Linked DNA regions of Homo sapiens: region 1 is linked to region 2. A link means that fine-mapping ties the variant in region 2 to the expression of a gene that starts in the linked region. Tissue or cell type: unexposed skin. Region 2 holds a variant in brackets; the other region holds the start of a gene. All regions are shown on one strand. Distances are between the middles of the regions.

Region 1 (8,151 bases), 32 kb before region 2:
GAATCTTTCCTTTTGAGCCCTGTTGAACAATTAGGGTACATTCTCTCATTCACTGTAAAATTCAGAGTACAATACATGCAGGCCTTTCAGTGATCAACAGGTATTATTCTGACTTTATAAACAGAAATGTTTAACTGGCCAACGTCTGTGTTGGTCTTACGTTTACCATATATTTGAGGGAAGTCAGGAGAGGACCCCATGTCTTCATACCCTAAGTACTAGAACCTGGGCTCCCAATGCACACAGGATGTAGAGGTGCCACTGAAGAACCTACACTCACACCACAAGGAAAAAGTAGTTAGCATTTAATGAAACTCCCTCCATGTGGCTTCAAGCCACCAGGACACAGGCCCCCCCAACACTCTTAATCTTCTCCTCAGCTCTTCTGCTGAAGAATTTGGCCTTCACGATGACAGGCTGCTTTGGGAGCTTTCCCTTTCCCAGAACTTTGTAGTAGCCCTAGAAGAACAGAGAAAAAAGTTTACAATACACTGTAGTAGGTACCAACTGCGTGATGGGCGTGAGGAAAGACTGCCAACCCACTTTCTAAATCCCTAGGCAGGGTATGTATGTTTCTGATCTGGGCACTAACGGGGGCACCGACTGCCCCCACCAGTGAATCAAGACCAGTAGATTCTCTTCGAGTACTCTAGCACACCAGGACAAGAGTTGTGTCAGGATGTGACTCTAGTCTCGGCAAAGCATAAGCCTCCTCCTGCTCAAATACCCCCTGCTAAGCAAAAGAAGACAACCACCTTCCTGACCACCAGAACTACTCAATGGACATTAAATAGGCTGGGAAGTGAATTTAAAGCGTCCCTAGGGTTCTGGCCTCTTAACACTACCTCTATATTCATGAGAGTTAAGACTGACACAGGGACCAGAACCCCCGCAAGGACAGACATAATACATCTGTTTTGGGGGAAAATCTCTTCAGATAATGCATGGCACTGAGTATCAATGGAACATATTAGGATTCTATTATCTGGAGAACATGAAGGGCCAAGAGCTGTGCTCAGTGAAAACCAGCTATAGTTCAAGCACGAAATGCAAACCTGATACAACCTGGGCAGTGACAGTAGGCACTGCTACGGATAGGGAACTACCTATGATAATTCTACCACAGGAAGAATATCAATGTCTGGTAGGTAACTGGGAAGTACAGATTATATAAGTGGATTAGATTAAGCCAGAGTTTTGTAAGGGAAGGTATGGAAGTACAGAAAAACATCCAATTAACTTACCGATCGCACCACATCAATGATGGGAGCAGCCCCAGTCTTGTTTTTAGCAGCATTCACCCGTGTCTGTTCACTGACCAAAGTCCACAATTTGTCAAGGTTGACAGTTGGGCAGAAGCTCTGGTTCCTCTTTAAGTGGTAATGCTTCATACCAACTTTCCCAAAGTAGCCTGGGTGGCTAGGAAGAGGTAACAACCACCTTCATACACACTCCAATTAAGATGCTATGTTTATCATCTTTATAGTTACCACCCCCTATTAGAGTGTAAATTATTCACTGGTGTAGAGCAGTGTCAGGCATATGATACATCTGTTGACTTAAACAACTGTTTTAAAAACCACCAAAGACTATCATGAGGAAAAGGCTAGTCTTATTTCCTGGAACCAGGATAAACCACCGACAATGTCAGAGGCAGGGCCGAGACTAAAATTCAAGTCACATAACAGCACTCTATGGAAAATCTACATACTCCTATAATAAACGTCTTCTGAATAGCCAAAATTTATCATCCACTAGTTTGTGGGTAGGTGAATGTGAAGCATGTCTCTAACCTGGTGACTGACTGTGCCATAAGGCCCACAGCCAGTGAATAAGGTCAGCAGTTACTCTTCGAGGACTCTAGCACACTCAGGCAATAGCCGATACCCAAGCGTGACTCTAGCCTCGATGACAGGTTCTCAGTTCACACCAAGTGTTAACTTGGTAAAAAACAGCAATAGGCAAGGCTTGCTTCTAAACTTTTTGTTTAAGCCAGCCCTCTCTCTGCCCCTACCTCCCAAGCTGTGTCAATAAAAGCAGTCCAAGGACACTTACTATTTGTCGAAGTTGATCCGGTGGTGATGCAGACCACCAGCATTACCGCGGCCGCCGGGGTGCTTCCGGTGCTTGCCTGCAGGAATACAAAGCTACGTGGGGCCGGTGTGATGGCTCATGCCTGTAATCCCAGCATTTTAGGAGGACGAGGGGGGGTAGATCACCTGAGGTCAGGAGTTCGAGACCAGCCTGGCCAACACGGAGAAACCCCCGACTCTACTAAAAATAGAAAAAGAATTAGCCGGGCGTCGTGGCGCACACCTGTAATATCAGCTACTCGGGAGGCTGAGGCAGGAGAATCGCTTGAGCCCGGCAGGCAGGGGTTGCAGTGAGCCGAGATTTCGCCACTGCACTCCAGCCTGGGCGACAGTGATCAGTCTCACACACACACAAAAAAGCTACATGCACCACACAGCCTTCTCATGCATCTCAATACTTCCTCGCACAAAAGCAGAGTGTTTCCCAGACTTCTGTGTCCCGCTTACGCTGTTCCCACCCTACCGATGCCGGTTTTCAGCAATGCGATTACTTTAGGATTCCGGGTGAAACATCTTTTCAGGTTCCACATCACAGCATTCCCACAGTACTCCATGTCTTCAACTAACCCAATACCGTGCCTGCTCAATTCCTATTACCCCACTGATGTGAAATTCCTTAGAACTGGAATACTAGAGGATCGTCAGAAAAAAATCAACAGCTGTGCAACTTGACCACAAAAAGGTCTTATTCTAACCCACTTATAGGCTACCGATCTCCAGACTAGCTAAGCACCCGAAGAGAGCCCAAGGCCCACCCCGAGGGGAAGCCGGCACTTACCTATGCGGCCGTGGCCGTGGCTCACGTGGCCCCTAAGTTTCCGGGTCTTCCTCAGTCTGGATGGCTGTGTGGAAAAAGCTTGGTGGTAAGGCCTAAGGAATTAGGGGCAGGGGGCGATGCCCGCCAGCCGAGATGGTCCTGTAAGCCTGTGGGTCAAAGACCTAACTTCTGGAGCGTTTGGGAAAGCTGAGGGTACCGATCCGCTCAGGGCCGTGAGGTCTCACCACGGTAGCGCAGGGGCCCGCGTGTCCTAGAGATCCGAACCGCGGGCCTAACACACGGCTCCGGGAGCCCCGCCCCGGGCCCGCGCCGGCCACCCTGCCCCGCAGGCGGCCATGCGCAGCCTGGAAGCCCCGACCATGGTAGGGAGTGGATGACTAGGGGCAATGGGAATACAGCTTAGGGGTCTCCGCCGGCAAGGAAGAGGAGGCAAGAAACGAAACACCTACCATGTTGGCAGCCCAGACGAAAAAGGAAGGCCTTCGCCAAGTCTCGCGAGGTATCGGCCACGGGGGCGGGGCAAAACGCCTCACTTCCGGTCACAGAGGCCGGGCTTCGGGCGGGGCCTCCTGGTCTCGCGGGATTGCGCGCCTGCTAGTCGCTTCCTCTTTCTGAGGGTGGTGATCCCCCATCACGGAGTGTCCTGGTGGCGGTGTACGGTTTCGGTGAGGCTCGTTGTGCTAGGCTCGGAGGGCGAGAACTGTTGAAGAATCGGGGCTAGGTGTGCTGTACTGCACGCCGCCCGTGCTTGCTTGAGCCAGGCCCTTTTCTGGCGCCTTGGTCAGGGAACCGCCTAAGCCGACCCTAAGGGCCTCGTTGTCTGAGCTCCTCACCAAATGCGCCAGCCCTGAGCCGCCCCGCGCACCTCCACAGTTCTTAGTGGTCTGCCCGGGGCTGGTGATAGTGGCTACTGGTTTGTCTCCCGGCCGCAGTGCGGAACCGCGAGGCCCTCTTTAATCCTCAGTGTGCCCACCTGGTGTCTCGCTCGGTTTCCTGAAGCTCGGGCGGCTCCCGAAATGCCTTCTCCCGCTCTCACACTTCTGAGTGGGCACTGCAGCTTCCTTTCTCTTTTGCCCTTTTGCTATCATTTGGTTGTCCTCTCAAGTTTGAGCAACTTAAATTGCTTCAGGGACTTAGATGCCTGGTTGCTTTATGGTCCTTTTAATGCAGATGTTGTAAATACTTTTTCTAAATGCCACATTTAGGCCAGGCGCGGTGGCTCACACCTGTAGTCCCAACACTTTGGGAGGTCGAGGCGGGAGGATTTCTTGAGGCGAGTAGTTCAACACCAGCCTGGGCAACATAGTGAGACCCTCGTCTCCACATACAAAAGTAAATAAGTAAAAATAAATGCTATTTTTGAATTTTCTCCAGAATCTACATAACACGCCTGTGACCCTTTCCTGGACACAATGCAGACAGTTGCTCGCTTCCCCACCTGTACCACCACACAATCTAGTATAACCCTTATGTAATTTATTGACCTACGTTTGTCTTCCCTACTAGACCTAATTCCTTATGTGGTCAAGGACTGTTTTTTTTAATCCACACTCAACTAGTGATTGTTGAGTGAATAAATGAACTTACCCTCACCTCCCTGTCTTCGCTAATAGCAGCATGTCTTCGCTCTTAAGTCGGTTCCTTCAACCAGTGTTCAAGATCCCATCCCCTCGCTAGTCTATTAATAGATCCCATGGGAAAAATGAAATAAATTTTTAAAATCCCATCCCCTCAGTTATTCTCTGTGTGTATGTGTGAGCGTGTATTTATTTATTTTTCTTTGTCTTGCCCCCTTCAGCTAAAATATATTTTAGCTAAAATATCCAAAATTCTGGCCGGGCGTGGTGGCTTACTTCTGTAATCCCAGCACTTTGGAAGGCCGAGGCGGGCGGATCACGAGGTCAGGAGATCGAGACCATCCTGGCTAACACGGTGAAACCCCGTCTCTACTAAAAATACAAAAAATTAGATGGGCGTGGTGGTGGGCGCCTGTAGTCCCAGCTACTCGGGAGGCTGAGGCAGGAGAATGGCGTGAACCCGGGAGGCGGAGCTTGTAGTGAACCGAGATCGCGCCACTGCACTGCAGCCTGGGCGACAGAACGAGACTCCGTCTCAAAAAAAAAAAAAAAAATTCCAAAATTCTCCCATGTCCTTGCCCTTACAGCCAAGCTCCCCAAAAGAGTAGTCTACAAATCCTGCCCATTTGCACCTTCCCATCCATTGTTCACTGCGGTCTAGCTCACAGCCTGTGACTTCAGTGAAATTGCTCTTACTAATGTCATTAATGAACGAATTGCCAAATTGGACTCTTCCTATTCTTCATATCACTTGTTCTTTCTGTTGTACTTTAATCTGTTGGCGTCTTTTTCTAGAAAAAGTCTTGCCTTCCTCCTACTCTTTGGTCACTTTTCAGTCTTCTTTTCAGGTTCTTCCATCCAGCGTTGTCCACCATTTGAATGTTGATGTTCCTCAGCCTTCTGTCCTTGTCCTTATCTTTTCACAGTACATGGTCTTCTTGGGTGGCTTCAATTCACATCCTTATTGCTGAGCTCCACACCCATATGGTCACTTAATTACTGGTTAGTATTCCTTGGACATTCTACAGACAAAGTAAACATATCCAAAGAACTCAATCTGCACTGCTCACTGGTGCCTTCTCCTTTATTCTCTGTCTTGGTGAGTGGCACCATTGTCCACCTAGATAATGAAAATTGTCCCCAAGCCTTCTCTTCTTCTACTACACTGTCACCCTATCCTTTTGTTTCTGTATCTCCCCAATGTGCTTCCTCTGTTTAAGCCTTAGTGCCCTGCCTTCATTCAGGCCCCCATCATATCTCTTAACTGGAGTTTACAACACCTTCCTTTGTTCACTCTGCCTGCATTCTAACCCTCCTCCAATTTCTGTATCCTTCACACCTCCACCACGTTAGTATTCCGAAAACATGACTTTCATTCTTTTACTTGATCAAAAAGTTCGGTAGCTCCTTATGACCAACAGAATATAGCCCACTTGCCTTTCCAGCCTTACCCCAGCCTCTCCCTTACACAAGCTTTCTACTGCAGCCGTGCCTGGTATATCCCATTTGCATTTTTGCCTTTGCTCATGCTGTTTCCCATCCCGGAGTGCCCATCCTCTTCCTGACCACATGTCCTGAATCTTCCTCAACCTTTAAGGCCAACTTTATATTCTGCTTCTTCCCAGAACACTTCAGTCCACAAGGATAACAACCAACATTTTCAGAGCACTTGGCAATTTACAAAATACATCTGCCTGAAGGTACAGCACTACCAGCCTCATTTTACGTGTGTGAAAACTGAAGCACAGAAGAATTGGGTGACTTGTCAGACGCTGCATAGGTGGTCAGGTACAGAGCCTGGGCCTAGCCTTTAGTCTTCTCTCTCCAGATCCCCTGCTTTTACCTCAGTGACCAGTCCCTCTCTGACCTTACAGCATTATGGTCTTCATCCCTCCATCAACCTTAATCACATACTGCATGTGACCAGCAGGAAGAGGGGTCTTGAGAATAGGAGGGGAGATCAAAGAAGACATCGTCGTCTATTTGACATCAAAACTGGCCAGTAAGTGCACAAGAAATGAGCTGGGTTACCTGGAACCTAACCTTGGGAAGATGATCTGTCAATGGAGGTAAGCTGGGCAGGGCCTTGGGAATGAAAGGGAACCATCAGTGGTATTAGAGCTGGGGCCTACAATAAGGACCACCACTGCAAGGGGTTGAGGTAGGGTTCTGGGTGCTAAGACACTCCTCTTGGATAGTTTGCCAGGTTCCTTGGTTATAGAGGAGCTACGTTCTGTCCCTCAGGTCACGCGGCTGAACAGAAGGCCTCCCAGAGTGGACCCAGCACTACCCGTTGGGTTCTGTGTTCACCTAACATTCTTCTCATCAATGGCTTGATCTGGTTGTAGAGGGAGTACCCTGGGTAGTTGTCTGGCTCAATCCAGTTTTCTATCCAGCTCCCTCTCCTTCAAAAGGCAACCACATGACTTAAACACACAGCTCATGTGGTGTTTGTTCAGTGTGTGTCACTTTTCCTAGGTTGACAGAGGTCTGAGAGAGCAGACAAAGCTGAGTTTTCTGTCTGCAAAGTGGAGTAGCAGCCAGATATTTGGCATTAGGGGACCTGTCCCTCCCAGCTAGGCACATGGGACATGACCTTTGGCCATGACTCCTGAGGGGTGTCCTTCTCTGTGACATCTCTTCTGAAGTACAGCATGGCTTTGTGACATCTCAGGCATCTGGGCTTCCTCAGAGTGTGAGGGCCTCAGAAAATACCTCAGAAATGAACGGAAGAGATGATACCAGACAGCAGCCTGGTGAGGCAGGCAAGTGTGCTGATTTTTTGCTGCCCCAGGCCTCTCTCCAGGTGGCCTTGGGAACACATCATCACCCTGAAGAAGGCCCTGGTGATCCCTCTTCCTTTCTCTCCTCACTGGGTTCCTGAATTCGACATCAGTCCTTCAGATAGCAGCAACATCCTGAATGAATCCAGCTCTGTTTTCTTGCTCTCCATCTTTAGATGTGGACATTTGGAAATATGTTCGTTTTCTTTTTTAAGTAGAGCACTGTTAATCAAGATGGGAAGAAGCAGTGTTTCTGCTTTTTTTCCAAGTGAGAATTAGAGAAAAGCTCAGAAATCCCAATTTACTTCAGAAAGACTTGAAAAATTATACGTAATAGACAGTACAACAGTAAAGAAAATTCTGAAAAAAATATAAGTATAAGCAACTCAAATCATTCCACCCTGTGATGCCATTTTCTTTTCTGAGTATTACCTTTCAACCCTTGTATACATGGAGACATAGCTGTCTGCAAAGTTAGTGATCATAGTATACAAATCCTTTTGTATTCTTTTTATTTAATACCATGGCAGTTTTTCGTATCACTACCCAGTCTTCATGATTATTTTTAACAGCTGAAGAATAATTTATTTTCAGCATGTGCTATCTTTTATTAAGCCACTTTCTTGTGTATTTTGTTTTTTTAAAAAATTCTTATTGTATTCTTTGCTGTTAGAGACAATGATGGAATGAGCATTTGTATATAATTTTTTCTTCTCCTGTTGAATAACTTGTCTAGGATAAATTCCCAGAAGTGAGACTGCTGGATTATATGGTATGAACATTTTTGTGATTCATTTTATGTTACTATGTATTTTTTCCAAAAGGATCGTACCAATTTATTCACCAGCAATATGTACAGTTTCCAGTTTCATTTTAACCTCCCTAGCCTTGGGGGTTTTTGTTTGCCTTTATCGGTAGTT
Region 2 (8,197 bases):
GCGGGAACCCAGAAGAGGGACTAATTAACTCATCCCGGGGGAAATTGATCTTGCTGCTCAAAGGTGGAACATTTGAACAGGTATGAAAGGATGAATAGGAGTTTATCTGAAAAGGAGAGGGGCAAGAAAGAGTATTTCAGGAAGAGGAAACAGCATTTTTCACAGACACAGAGTCATGCAAAAGTCTGGTGTATTCAAGAGATAGCAGAGATGTTGGGCATGGCAAAAACACAGGTTGTATGTTAGGCAAAGCTAAAGATGAGATTAGAGAGAGATAAGGTCAATTTACAAGGGGCATTGAATGCCAAGCTGAGGACTTTGGCTTTAAGGCCAAGGGAGCAGAGGATGTGTGATGAGGCCTTGTTTGACCTATTCAGTTCTTTCTCTTTTTTCATTCTGCTCGTGAGGCCATGTTACAATGACTGATGTTTGGGCATCTGGTACCCGGGATGTCTTGTGGAAGTCGTTTTCAACAATTAGAGCAGCATTTCTGTCCTGCTGTAGATGAGGAGGTCACCTCAGGGTGAGCCAAGTGGAAGAGAGGGACAGTAGCCTTATTCCCCTGGATGATGTCACCTGTGGAGAGCATCCTTCTCCACCTCTGGCCATTGTTCTTGACAGGCAGGAGAATATGCAGGACATTCCAGATACAGTCCTGTCATTAACACCCATGGCTCTGCAAAAACTCAGAAAGTTTTTCTTTTCTTTTCTTTTCTTTTTTTTTTTGGTGGGGTGAGGGAGTATTAAACTATTATTTTTCATGATTTTGTGGATTTCTATTTTCCTGGGATGTATCAGTTAGCTTTTACTGCATAACAAGCCACCTCTAAACTTTGTGCTTAAAACAACTAAACTTTATTTATTTTATGATTCTACAGTTTGGCTGTTTGGGCTGGGATTCTCTGGGTAATTCTTCTGGTTTGGCCTGGGCTTAGCTAATTATAACTGTGTTCACTCTTGCACTGTATTCAGCTAGTGGGTTAGTTGGGGCTGGCTGGTCTATGATGGCCTCAGGTGGGATGCCTGAGACAACTGAGAACTTTCTCTGCATGATCTCTCATCTTCCAGCAGTCTCAATGCCAGGTTAGATTTTTCACATGGCACTCTTAAAGTTCTAAGAACAAGAGCAGAATTATATAAGGCCACTGAGGTCTAGGCTTGGAAAACTTGTCACTTTTGCTGCATTCTGTTGGCCAAAGAAAGTCACAAGGTGAGCTTAGATTCAAAGGGCAAAGGGTCCTACCTCTTTTAAAAATTAAAAACTCATCACTGACCTGAAGCTCGTGGAGAGTCTTACCTTTTGATGGTAGGATTGCAAGGGTATGGATGCAGGGAGGGGAAGAATTTGTGGCCATTTTTTGAATCTACCACTCAAACTAACTTTCGTCACCAGAGAGTTGGTAATTGAGTTTATTGCATTACTGTGAATAGGATATGAGGAATCTTTTGAACTCCAAAGTTGACATTCATGGAGGACCATGTGATTTCTGAAGTCTTATCTAATTTAATGTGCACAGCAACTCTTATTTTCCCTATTTTACATATGAAGAAACTGGGGTACAGGGCAATTAAGTGAGATTAAGTGTTTTGCCCAAGGTCATTGGCTGGTAGGCCTGGTATTTTGGACTTACATTTGTCTGACTATAAGTCTGGAGCAACTGCCATCATATCATTCTTTCGTATTTTGAAGAGATGAGACAGAGGAGATTGTAGCGGTACTGCTGCATTCACTGCCATAGCCAACCCCTTTCCAGATCACCCTCATCCCTGGACACAGGTACCTTGCCCTACTCCAGAGGCTCATTTTCTTGTTCCTAGTAGGTTGACTGCCCTTGCGGTGGGCCGGCAGAATCACTGTGGTCTCCAGGGTGGGAGTCTTCTGCTGCTTTTATAGTCCAGAAGCCCACTATGCTGAAGAATATGTTAGAGACTGATGTATTTCTCTGGGGAGAGATTGTAGGTCAAGCTGTTCATAGGTAAAATATACATATATATGATGCATCTAACTTGGTCTATGGGGAGAGAGCCCTCCAAAAGACCTCTGAGCCTCAGAGGCAGACTGACTGGTATATGCTGTACTAAGAGAAAAATACCTCCTAGATGAGCGGGCAGGGAGGCCTTGCCTTTCTCTGACTAAAGCCTTCTGGAGGCTTTAGCTTCGAGATCTTCCAAGTCATCCTGCTATGTGGTAACCTTAATGACCTGGAACTGTGCCCAGACTAAACTGACTCTGGATCTTGGCTAGTGATGGGAGCTGTGCTCTCAGGGATGTGGAATGAGGAATGGGAGCAGCAAGAAGGCACCTGATTGTCAGAACCAAAGCAGCGTTGGGCCTGTAGTAGCATGGTTTATGGGGCAGGGAGGAAGGTAGGACCAGGTAAAGACAAGAATGTGAGGAGACCAGATGGTCTGTAGGGAAGGCCCCAATGGGATGGTCATGTTCAGGGTACCCACATACTAAATGCAGGCTATGGCATCAAGTGTAGTTCATTTTGGCACACATGGGTATTGCCATGTATCTTGGTGTTGTGTATTAGAAAGCCTTATGTCCAGGCCTTAGTTATAATCAGCCATGTTGCCCTGACTCTGCTATCTTTCTTTCTTGCACAGAGCTCATCTCCTGTCCTGGGTGTGAACGAGTATATCTTACCAGGGATGTAACTGAACATTTTTTTCTGCATTGTGTTCCTACTGAGCAACCCAAGATGGCCAGGGTAAGTCAGGACAAGGAAAGAAGCAGCTGATCTTTTTCAGAAATCTGTGAGGCCCCTGTCCATAAGTCTTCTATCCATCCATCACTCTATCATCTGATTTGTTACTTCTCCATCAGTTTTCCTAATCATCCATCCATCCATCTAGAAGAAAATAAAAATGCATGAGTTGGGGGAAACAATGAGGGGGTTTTCTATTAAGTGAAAATTATTGACTTTTTTTTGTGTCAATCCCTTTAGCAGAAGGTGAATGTAAGTTAAGATATATTAAGAGTTGCTTACTGTCTATATAATTATTTTTCTCTCTCTTACAGCTCTTGCTGAAAAATACCAGTACTGGGCTTTTGTTTTATTTTTTTAATCATCCTGAGTTGAAATTCATGTACCAGCCTGGATTAAATGGGTTTATTAACCTTGCCTGTATTTAACAACTATCACCTTTTTCCTGAGTTTCTTAAGGAAATTTTTATCACTTATTGGCCGGCAGCCCTTCTGTTCCTCTTTCCACTAGGGTAAATTAGTAAATTAGTAATTTACTAATTTACTTACTTGTTCCTGTATCTGATTTGTGTTGAATGTCTCACATGTGCCAGACCCTGTGCTGGATATTAGGGAGATCGACCCATATACTCTACATTCAAGGAATTCATAGTTTAATTAGTAGAACTTTCAGAATTCACATCAGTTTGGTGGCCTCTGTGATTCAGACACAGATAGGCCAACTTTTCCAAATCTCCCCTTCTCTTGATGTTTTATAATAGCCCGGGCAAGATATTTGCTTACGAAATGAATGAACATTTGGACTAGGAGAGGCCTAGGTACCCTCAGATCAGGCAGAGCCCAGGTGTGGGAGCACAACTCTGAACGCTGGTCTATACTTGCCCTTCCTTGGTTGCATTTGACCATCTTGCTGTGTACTCCCATATGTGGGCTTTCTCCTCTCTGAAGCACATTGAATTTCCTGCTTTTGCCAGTGCTTTCCCTCTGTTACAACATTTTCCTCCCTTATCTGCCTGGTGAACCTACTTGTCATTCAGTATCCAGCTCAAGTGTTTCCTTTTTGTAAAACCTTTCCTAGCCACTCCTAGACTGAGTTCCAGGAAGGCTTCCTTTGCTTCCTTAGCATGTGTTGCATCCTTTTAATTACAGCATTACTCAGTTAATGTGTACCATCCTGTGTGCTGTGGATAGCATGAGATCAGATCCTTGGCTTACGCATCTGGGTGTCCTTAGCTTCAGCACAGGACTTGTGTGAACAGCCCCTGAGACAGCTGCTGCTGCTGCTCCTCCTCCTCCTCCCTCCCTCCCTCCCTCCTTCCCTTCCTCCTTCCCTTCCTCCTTTTCCTTCTGCTCCTTCCCCTCCTCCTCTCCTCCTCTTCCTCCTCCTCCTTCTTCTTCCTTCTCCTTTGCCTTCTTCCTCATCCTTTTTTGAGACAGGGTCTTCCTCTGTTGCCCAGGCTGGAGTGTAGTGGTACGATCTTGGCTCACTGCAGCCTTGACCTCCTGAGCTCAAGCGATCTTCCCACCTCAGTCTCCCTAGTAGCTGGGACTACAGGCATGTGCCACCACTCCCGGCTAATTTTTGTATTTTTTGTAGAGATGGGGTCTCACTATGTTGCCCAGGCTAGTCTGAAACTCCTGGGCTCAAGCACTCCTCCTGCCTTGGCCTCCCAAAGTACTGGGGTTACAGGTGTGAGCCACCATACCTGAAGTAGCCACTGTTCTTTTGGTTACAAAGGATGCTTCCTTCCACAAGCCCCGGCATGTTACTCCCAGACAGCTCTGCAGAATAGGTTACACTCCAAACTGGTGGAGGAATAGGCCTGCAGGACCCCTGTCTTTAGAGCATTTACCACTTGTGGAGGCAGACACAAATGAGGATAACATCAGTAACTCCAGAACTCTCTGCTTCCAGAACTGCTCTGAGTGCAAGGAGAAGAGGGCAGCACATATCCTCTGCACCTACTGCAATCGCTGGCT[G/A]TGCAGCTCTTGCACAGAGGAACACCGACACAGCCCTGTCCCCGGGGGCCCATTCTTTCCTCGGGCCCAGAAGGGATCTCCAGGTACCAATCCCACCTCTCCCTGCCCACTCCCATGCCCTAAAGCAGGGCTGAACCCTAAGATCCCTGGAGAATAGCTCTCCGATCTTGTTTTCTTGCTGGGGGAGAAGGTAGGGACAGTCTCAGAGCCTTTCCCAAAGGAAGTCTCCTTCAGAGTCAAAGGGGTGACTCACTCTCGTCCCTCCCTGTTGATGGTGGGGGTGGATGAGTGTGGATGAAATGGTATAGAGAGGAAAGTGTTGAATTATTGTGGAAGCTGGCTGAGCTCCCTGCCTTTCCCCTCTAGAGTAATCATGTTACCCTTCTAATTTATTTACTTGATTAACTTAGTCTGGATTAGGGCTTGTTTGTTTGTCTACCCAGCACCATCTGTTTTATTTTTATTTTTATTTTTATTTTTTTTTGAGATGGAGTCTCACTCTGTCACCCAGGCTGGGGTGCGGTGGCATGATCTCGGCTCACTACAACCTCCACCTCCTGGGTTCAAGCGATTCTCCTGCTTCAGCCTCCCAAGTAGCTGGGATTACAGGCATGCGCCACCGCGCCCAGCTAATGTTTGTAGTTTTAGTAGAGATGGGGTTTCGCCATGTTGGCCAGGCTGGTCTTGAACCCCTGACCTCAGGTGATCCGCCCACCTTGGCCTCCCAAAGTGCTGCGATTACAGGCGTGAGCCACTGCGCCCAGCCACCATCTGTTTTAAATGACAATCTTCTTGAAAGTCTTTTCTCAAGGCCCTTGAATTGTGGGAGGGGTTCTACAACTGTCAAATCCACAGGAACCAGAGTTCATGATCCACGTGATCTAGCCTGGAGCCTGGCAAGGCTGGATAGCTGGTTTCAGCTCCATTAAAAACAGAATCCTGATTAATGAACAGGTTAAGGTTAATTGTGAAGGATTCATTATTTTGCAGGAGATCTATGTGGAGTAGTAGCAAGCGCCTTCCTCAGCCTCTGGCAGGTAGTGGGATGCTTGGGCTTGATGGTGTGCTATTTCTGGACAACTGGGCAAATCCAGCCAAGCTCAGCCCAAAATCCTCCTTGTGCCCCTGGAGAGTCATCTCCTGTTTATAACACTTCCCCCGAGCTCTGTATTTCTGCAGTGTCCTCTGAAGGCTGAGAGCTGTGCAGCAAAGCTTAACTGAGAGGTTTGTCTACCTGAGCAAGAGAAGCTCACTTTCTCTGTCTTCTCTGGCAGGAGTGAATGGTGGTCCCGGAGACTTCACCTTGTATTGTCCTCTACACACACAGGAAGTACTCAAGCTATTCTGTGAGACATGTGATATGCTCACTTGCCATAGCTGCCTAGTGGTGGAACACAAAGAACACAGGTGGGGCTGACAGACTGCCTGAAATGGGCTGGGGAGGGCTCTGGATTTCTTACTTGTGAGAGCTCTGGGAATCCCCGTGCATCAGAATCTTCTCCCTGCCCAAGCCAACCTGCAGCCCCTGGGCTGAAGTTTTTCTCTGCTCCTGTTGTAGGACTTCCCTGGAAAAGGCCTAATGGGCCAAGAGCCTGTGGTGCCTTAGACTTTCCCTAGAAGTCATCACAGCTTCCATGGGTCTGGCTGAGACAGTTCCCTGTGGAGATTCCCGCTTGGTTGGCATGCTCAAAGTAGGACTCAGCCCTTCTCAGCTTTTTCTCTGCCTCATCCCCTAGGTGCAGACATGTTGAAGAAGTTTTGCAAAACCAGAGGATGCTTCTGGAAGGTGTGACTACACAGGTGGCACATAAGAAATCCAGTCTACAGACATCTGCAAAGCAAATTGAGGACAGGTAGCACAGGCTAGTGCCTTGCCAGTGCTGGAAATGCTCTGTTCCCGCACACCCAGGGTTCCAACACCAGGCCGTCAGATGTAGTGCCTGTGAAGAGGAACTGTGGTTAAGCAGATGTGGGCATATGTCCTAGAAGGCATATGTCTTGGCCTTTGAGGTCTCAGGGCCAGGGAGGGGTCATTAAGTCATCCCTTGGTGGCTGAGACCAAGCTAGGTCAGGATGATCAGAGTGAGTCTGGGTCAAAGAATATGCCTTATGAACTAGCCAGAAGTCGGTGCTTGAGAACAAGGGTACCAAGCAGACACTAGGGAAGAGAGTGCTGCTTATTATGAGGGTGGAACAAACCAGGGGCAATCTGTGCTTTATCACCCCTTTCCCTGTGTGTTCTCTGTAAATCTACAAGTCACATGAAATCATTGGTATTTTACATAGGAAGAGGAAGTGGTAGGTGCTGAGAGCACCTCATGTGTCAGGCACTGGGTTGGGTATCATATATGCATTATTTTGTTCAGTTCTTGCCATTCTTTCAGTTAGCGATTTTCTCCATTTTACTGATGAGGAGACTGAGGTTCATAGAGGTTTGGTAACTCATCTGAGATCACACAACTAGCCAGTGACTGTGCTGGGTTTAGATGGTAGGTCTGTGGTGACTTCAATGCCCATGCTTTTTAAATTTTTAAAAATAGCTTTACTGAGATATAATCTACGTATCATAAAATTATTCTTTTTAAATGTATAATTCAGTGGCCTTTAGTATATTCACAGAATTGTGCAACTGTACATAATTACTGTCTACGTTTAAAACATTTTCATCCCCCCAAAAAGAAGCCACATTAATATAAACATTATTATATGTTTATAATAAACATTATATTATATGTTTATTGTTTATTATATAATTATATGTTTATTATTGTTTATTATATAATATGTTTATTATATAATATGTTATTATGCCAATAATATAAACATTATTAGTCACTCTCCATTCCCCCAACACCCCCCGGCCCTCAGAAACTACTGAGGCAGTATGCATTCTGCCTCTTTTTACCTCATGGCGACATTTATTGGAGCATCCTCCTTTTAAACACAACAAATTACAGTAAATTATTCCCATACTTTCTCTTTTGGTCCTACCTCTAGTGCTGTGTCAACTGGTGGGCTACTGGGTTGACCTTGGTGTAGACTTGAGGTTTACCTAGAGAAAACCAAGCTGAACTTTGATCAAGTGGGGCTTTGTACAAAAGGTGGGATGGTGGAGGAAGGCTCTCTTTTTTTTGTATTTGGTGTCTGCTAGGCCCTGATCTCAGTAGGCAGCCTCCAAGTTGGTTCTTATGTTTGCTGTCTCTTCGTCTTCATATAGTCCATGAGGAAAGCTTACCATGGTTTGTCCCATTGTGTTTACAGGATTTTTGAAGTGAAGCATCAGCATAGGAAGGTGGAAAACCAGATCAAAATGGCCAAGATGGTTCTGATGAATGAGCTGAACAAACAGGCCAATGGGCTAATAGAGGAATTAGAGGTATGTATAGACAGATGGATCAGATGGTTGGGTTCAGAAACCATCCATATATCAAGCTAGTCCCAGGACCTAGGGAAGCCTAGGCTGTAATTCAGATATGCAGCTTCCATAGCTCTGTGCTGCTCCCTGT

What was found. PIP is the estimated chance that this variant, and not a neighbour inherited with it, causes the effect.
Region 1: TRIM66 starts here. The variant in region 2 is fine-mapped to the expression of TRIM66 in unexposed skin (GTEx, PIP 0.91).

What each region holds. Positions count from the first base shown.
Region 1 is chr11:8,677,986-8,686,136 of GRCh38, reverse strand. It overlaps TRIM66 (tripartite motif containing 66), which reads left to right and starts at 3,472. Exons shown (of 25, transcript NM_001388022.1): 1 at 3,472-3,536; 2 at 6,074-6,236; 3 at 6,323-6,517. It overlaps RPL27A (ribosomal protein L27a), which reads right to left and starts at 3,345. Exons shown (of 5, transcript NM_000990.5): 1 at 3,321-3,345; 2 at 2,872-2,935; 3 at 2,056-2,131; 4 at 1,245-1,419; 5 at 1-459. The coding sequence starts at 3,323. The coding sequence ends at 331. SNORA3A (small nucleolar RNA, H/ACA box 3A) reads right to left here and starts at 1,910; the gene lies at 1,781-1,910. SNORA3B (small nucleolar RNA, H/ACA box 3B) reads right to left here and starts at 698; the gene lies at 568-698. RefSeq lists enhancers at 2,424-3,066, 3,393-3,582, 3,783-3,852, 2,716-3,915 and a silencer at 3,073-3,272.
Region 2 is chr11:8,646,317-8,654,513 of GRCh38, reverse strand. It overlaps TRIM66 (tripartite motif containing 66), which reads left to right. Exons shown (of 25, transcript NM_001388022.1): 7 at 2,611-2,714; 8 at 4,627-4,774; 9 at 5,966-6,098; 10 at 6,428-6,544; 11 at 7,953-8,067. Among named protein-coding and RNA genes, the nearest start is that of TRIM66, 32 kb to the left of the region's middle. The variant G/A (reference allele first, on the strand shown) is at 4,692.